Regions from separate parts of the Homo sapiens genome. Here region 1 is linked to region 2. Evidence: fine-mapped expression QTL. Tissue or cell type: cerebral cortex. Region 2 holds a variant in brackets; the other region holds the start of a gene. All regions are shown on one strand. Distances are from middle to middle.

Region 1 (2,897 bases), 27 kb after region 2:
TGAGAAATGAAAAGTTGCCCTCCTTGCTACGTGAGCCAAGCAGCAACTGACCGCCCCCCTCCCCGCCCCGCCCCTCAGCTTGGCAATCAGACCAACTGTCAGTTAATTAGGTCCCTGTTGAGCTCCAGGGAAATGCACAAAGAGAACCAGGTGAGTTAAGCTGAAACTGCCACCTCCCCAGCCAAGCTCCCCATGACACCCTCATGACCCAAAGCTGCTTAGGCCCAGGACTGTACCCCCTGCCCTCTATCTCCCCCCATAATGACTTGGCCCCCTCATCACTGCTCAGTGGGGAGCCAGCTGCATCTCAGCTCAGCAACAAGTGACCCCTGCTCCACTAGGGATGGGAAGTGGAGCTCTCTGTCACAGCACCCGCCAGCCTTTGGAAGCCCCTCAACCCCCAAGAAGGCCCTCAGGAGGACTCAGTAGTCTGTGGGAAGAGGTCTGGCTTTGTGATGACTCCCCACCTCTCCCTCCTTGGGGTTGGGGCTCTGGGGCCTGACAGCAGGAGGCCAGAGCCAGGTTCTGGAGACCCCAGCCCAGGCACACACGCGGGATTAGAGAGGGGCAGGGTAGTGGATTCACCCGGTGGCAGCCTCATACTCCTGCCCTGGGTGACAAGGTCAGTGTCCACCGCTGCTCACATCTGACCAGCTCTGGGACAGAGCCAGGCGGAGCGGTCCCGGTGGTAGCCTAGGAGACTGACTACCCTTTGGGGACTGTGCTGGGACCAAAGGACGCCCCCACCCCACTCCTGGGCGGTCTGGAATCGGCCTGTCCCCCCACCCCCGCACCCCCAGCCTCACTGCCAGGAACTCTCTTGCCCCGGGATCAGGACCAAAGCCGCGGGGAAAAGTTGCACGAGTCTCCAGCTAACTTCACACGCGGCCCCGCGCCCCGTCCTGACCGAGGCAGAGCCCGGCTCTCCTTGCGCCCCCACCCCCAGGCCAGTCCGGCCGGGGCAGCGCCTTGGGAGGGCGAAGAAGCCCCGCGGGGTGTGTCGGGTACGCTGCCGGGGTGGGGCACGGGCCCCTTACCATCTCCACCTGGCGGGGGTCGAGCTGGCTAGGGGGCGCGGGCACCGAGAACTGGATCTTCTTGCGGTCCTTGGGGTCCATGGCGCGCGGGGTGGGCGGTGGGGCTGGGGTGCGCGACTCGGGGTCCCGGCGGCGGTCTGTGCTGGGCTCCCCCGCGCAGGCGGCGGGCTGTGCGGCGAGAGGAGGAGGAGGGCTGTTCGCGCACGGATAAAAATACCGTGCCCGCCGAGGGGAGGGCGCGGGAGCGGGAGGAGGGTCGGCGCCCGGGCTGGGCGCGCCCCCAGGCTCTCGGGACTCGGGGCTCGCCCCCCGCGCTCGCTGAGCCAGGTCTGTGCCTCGCTCCCTCGCGCTCCCCGGCCTGGGTGTCTCTGCGTCTCGGTGTCTCTCCCCTCCTGAGTGTCTCTGCGTCTCGGTGTCTCTCCCCTCCTGAGTGTCTCTGCGTGTCTCCTCTCTCTGCCTCTCCCGTCCTTCTCCACCTCCCTCCCTCAGCCTCTCCTCCTCTCCGCGTGTGTCTCTGCCTCTGCCGGGCTCACCCTCCGGTCCCAGCTTTGGGGTCCCCAGCCCGTCCCCTCCGCCTGGGACTGGCGCCCGGGTGCTCGGAGGGAGGGTTTAGGGGAAACTGGCCAATGAGCATGGAGAATCGTGTTCTCCTGGGGCTGGGAGGAGGGTGGGAGTTAGAGCCAAGGCCTGGGGAGCCAGCTGGGGGGCCCCCTGCGGTCTCCCCAGAACTTGAAGCTGCATTATTGATGGAGTCCAGCAGAGAGGATAAAGGGGGAGGGAGGGGGAGAGGGGCAGCGGGGAGGCAGGACTCTGGCTTTAACCCCTTCGTGGTCCTGGTACTGGGAGTTTCAGAGAGGCCTGCGAGGTCGTGGGGAGAGTACCAGCCTGTCACGCTGTGAATGGGGGTGTCCTGGAAAGGGAGCGAGTGTGACCGAGTTGTGTGTGGGAGGACACGTGTCAGTCATCGTGGCAGGGAGAGTGTGCAGGGGTGTGCCGGGGCCCTGTGGTGCCCATAGCCAGGGAGTGTGTTTTGGGGGGTCCGGTGTGGTGTGAGTGTGTCTGTGTAAGTGTGTCAGAGTGTCAAAGATGCAGGTGTGAGTGGCAGGGTGTGGGAGGACTGCGTGTGTGCGGGGGAGGGTGTGGGTGTGGGGGAGGATGTCAGAGGCTGTCAAGGTGATGGGCAGGCGTGTGCCAGCTTGCAGGGGGTGGGGGACTGTATCCACAGCTCCGCTGTGCAGTTGCTGGGGTATGAGGTTGTGGATGTGTGAGCGCTCCTGTGAGGGAGAAGGGGAATGTGCCCTGCCATGATGTACTGTAGATTCACGTGGCTCCTGTCTTTCCTCTCCGGATCTAATGGGGTGGGGAGGACAGGGCCGGCCCAGAGTTGGGGTGGGTTTGGGGGCTGCCTGTACACGTGCCATCACGTGCATGAATTTGGTGCATTCAGAAGCAGGGTTGGGGGAGACAGGTGTGAGCCTCTCTCTCTCCAGAGGTATTTGTGTGTGTCTCTGGAGCGGGAGCGGGAGGAGCTGGCCCTGTGGGTGGAATGTCCCTGTCTATTTGGTCTATTTGTCCGGGCCTTGGGTGCCTTTGCAGGAGCTGCTGTTTCCCTCCTTGGAGCTGTGCAGAGGGTCTGAATGCTTCTGTCTAGCACTGAGAGGGTGTGTGTAGACGTGTACATGCATGTTTTCCTGGGGCTCTGTTTGTGTTGGCGTCCTCTCTCCTGGTCACTCTCAGGCCTGAAACCCCCAATCCTCCTGCAGCTTTTCCACTCCCAGCCCCAGCATCTGGGTCCTGGGTGGAGTGAAAGGCCAGAGGAATCTTCTGGAATTGGGGTCAGGGCCCACTCTGGGGGTGAGG
Region 2 (2,843 bases):
TCAGGACTCGGGAGAGCCAAGTCTCAGCCCCTGCTTTGCCACTCTCTGGCTCCAAACCCCCTGCTCAGCACGACCCTACTGAGTCCTTGTAACCACTGGGCAACACAGACACAGTCTGTCAGCGAACTAAAAATATATGCTCCCAAATACAAAAGTAAAACTACAAGACTGAAAATCAATACAATTTTAATTAAATGTCTGCCAAGGGAAACATCATGTGGACTCTACTAATTGTTCAGTGCAGGATTCTGAAATGTTTCATGACATCTGAAAACAATTAGTAAGTTAGATCTTCTCACTTTGCAAGAATTCCCAGGTACGCATGAGGACTGCAGAGCAATCGCAGCCAACACAGCCAAATAACTTCAAAAGCACAATTACAGAGGCCAGGCACAGTGGCTCATGCCTCTAATCCCAGCACTGTGAGAGGCCGAGATGGGAGGATCACTTGAGCCCAGGAGTTTGAGACCAGCCTGGGCAACATAGTGAGACTCCATCTCTACCAAAAAAAAAAAAAATAGCCAAATGTGGTCATGCACCTGTGGTCCCAGCTACTGGGGAGGCTGAGGTGGGAGGAACCCTTGAATCTAGGAGTTGGAGGCTACAGTGAGCTATGATCACATCACTGCACTCTAGCCTGGCCAATAGAGCAAGACCCTGTCTCAAAACAAAACAAAACGAAAGTAAAATTATCAAAATCTTTTCAGCTCTTTTTGGGTAAGGAAACAAGTATTCAATGAAGGATGCAGGTAAGTTTTAGTGTTTGCTTTGATGTTGGATGGGACCTTGAAAAGGAAGTCTGCCTAAGACCTTAGAAGCTCTGCAGAAGGTCCTGAGCCTGCTGGGCCACAGCTTTTTCATGGGTAAGATGGCCCCTAGGGCCATCCATGGCCATGGCTCCAGCTCACTGAAGGTGCCAGCTCATCTCTGGTGCACAATCGACAGTCACCCTCAGAGCCCTGTCTCTCCCTCCAGCTCAACATGCCCAGAATCAAACTTAATCTCTTTGCCCGGAGCTGGCCCCTTCTCTGAGCTCATCACCTCTATTAACAAGACATTGTTTTCTTGTCACATAAGCATGAGACCTGGAGGAAGGGCCCTTGCCATCCGGAAGTCTGATGGGGAGCCCATGCTGCAGAAGGAAAACGAGGGGAGGACTCAAGGGGCTGAGTCCCTTGCTGAGGTCATCGGGCCAAAGCCGAGGAGGAGCTGGGACAGAACTGAGCCTGGGGTGCCCTGCTTCCAGGGCTCCTGCTTATGTGGGCTTGGCCCTGCCTGGAGACCAGATCAGGCCACTGCCAACTAGACTGTGTTCCTGAGGGTGG[G/A]CCAAGCACTGCGTGGGGTGGGGGTGGGGCAGCTCTGGTCTCCAGGCTGCCCGGCAGCATCTCATTAGAGCCACTGGGAACTGGGAGTTTTTCCTGTTTTGCTTCCCACTGTGCCCTCTGCTTTTATTTACTTATTTATTTGAGTCAGGGTCTCACTCTGTCACTCAGGCTGGAATGCAGTGGTGCAATCATGGGTCACTGCAGCCTCAGACTTCTAGACTCAAGCAATCCTCCCACCTCAGACTCCCAAACGGCTGGGACAACAGGTGTGCACCACCACACCTGGCTAGCGTCTGGTTTTAGCACAGTGGTTGGGACACAGCAGAGACTCAAAAAATGTTTGCTGAATGAATGAATGAATGAATGAATGAATGATCGAACAAACGAATGAATGAACCAACTGGAGCCAGAGGGCAGTGGCAGGCAGAAAGAAGACAAAGGTTTCAACAGCTCTGCCAGAGCTGGGTCTCCCCCTCCTCCTCTCTCGGGAGCCTCCACTAGGGGGCAGTATGGGGCAGAGGCCAAGAGCATGAACTCAGCTGGAGGGTAGGTTCAAGGCCGTTGCCTTCACACACTTGGGTGCAGAGGGACCTTGGCCAAATGACACAACCCCTCCGAACCCCTCCACATTCCTTCATTCAGAATATGAGAACCCCTGTTGTTCCTCCCAGTCTTCATTTTACCCAGCTAACCAACCCCAGGGGAGAGGCAGCCCTCCCATGTGGCAGATGGACAAACTGAGGCCCGGGTGGCCTGCAACATGGCCTGTGCCCCCACCTCGCCCCCACTCACATTCAGTTCGATGATCCAGAGCAGGGAGATGAAGAGCAGGTCGAAGGTGACGAAGAGACAGAAGGTGCGGCGGACATCAGAGATGGCCCTTCGCTTCTCAGGCGGCGGAAGGAGGTGCGAGGAGAGGCTCTGGCTGTGGGACAGTGAGGAGCCCAGGGAGGCCACGGCAGGCAGGCTGCGCTCCAAGTCTCGGGTCAGCTCCCTGGGCAGCTTGCTCATCCTGGTGGGCCCCCACCTCAGGGCGGGGAGGGCGCGGCCTCAGCAGCAGGGCTGGGGGCGAGGCAGAGGCAGAGTCCTGTCAAACTCCTCCTGTCCCTCCCACACAGCCACCAGGGCCACCACTGGCTCCCAAACGCATTTGTCTCTACACTGGGTCCCAAGCCCAGGGCCCAGGGCACTGTTGCCCAAATGTCCTCCACCAGCCTGGCTCCCAGGCTGCAGGGTTGAGCATTCCGCTAATTATCTGTCCTCCTTCCTGGTGCTCCCTGCCCCAAGCCCAGCAGCCACAGGGTTCACCCCTGGAGGGCTCTGGGGTCCCTCTGCATGGGCACCTACCCCCTCCTGGATCCCTGGGGCTGTAGCCTGCTCCTACCAGGCCTAGCCCTGAGCTCCAGCCTCTGGTCCTGTCAACAGCCTCTGGGCCTGCCACCACCCCCAGGAGAAGAGGGCCCCAAGCTCTGTTCTTTGTTTTCCAAGCACAAAGCCACATTCCCTCCCAGCAGCCAG

Which allele goes with the higher level. Positions count from the first base shown, and alleles are read on the strand shown. Sizes are in standard deviations (SD) of each study's normalised expression.
With allele A in place of G in region 2, the expression in cerebral cortex of the gene that starts at base 1,559 in region 1 is lower (small effect, 0.30 SD a copy in GTEx).

What was found. PIP is the estimated chance that this variant, and not a neighbour inherited with it, causes the effect. A credible set is the group of variants that fine-mapping cannot tell apart.
Region 1: PPP1R1B starts here. The variant in region 2 is the best candidate, but not a certain one, in a credible set for the expression of PPP1R1B in cerebral cortex (GTEx, PIP 0.72).

The regions. Positions count from the first base shown.
Region 1 is chr17:39,625,614-39,628,510 of GRCh38, reverse strand. It overlaps PPP1R1B (protein phosphatase 1 regulatory inhibitor subunit 1B), which reads right to left and starts at 1,559. Exons shown (of 7, transcript NM_032192.4): 1 at 1,038-1,559. The coding sequence starts at 1,118.
Region 2 is chr17:39,653,025-39,655,867 of GRCh38, reverse strand. It overlaps STARD3 (StAR related lipid transfer domain containing 3), which reads right to left. Exons shown (of 15, transcript NM_006804.4): 2 at 2,118-2,387. The coding sequence starts at 2,336. Among named protein-coding and RNA genes, the nearest start is that of TCAP, 11 kb to the left of the region's middle. RefSeq lists an enhancer at 1,305-1,866. The variant G/A (reference allele first, on the strand shown) is at 1,326.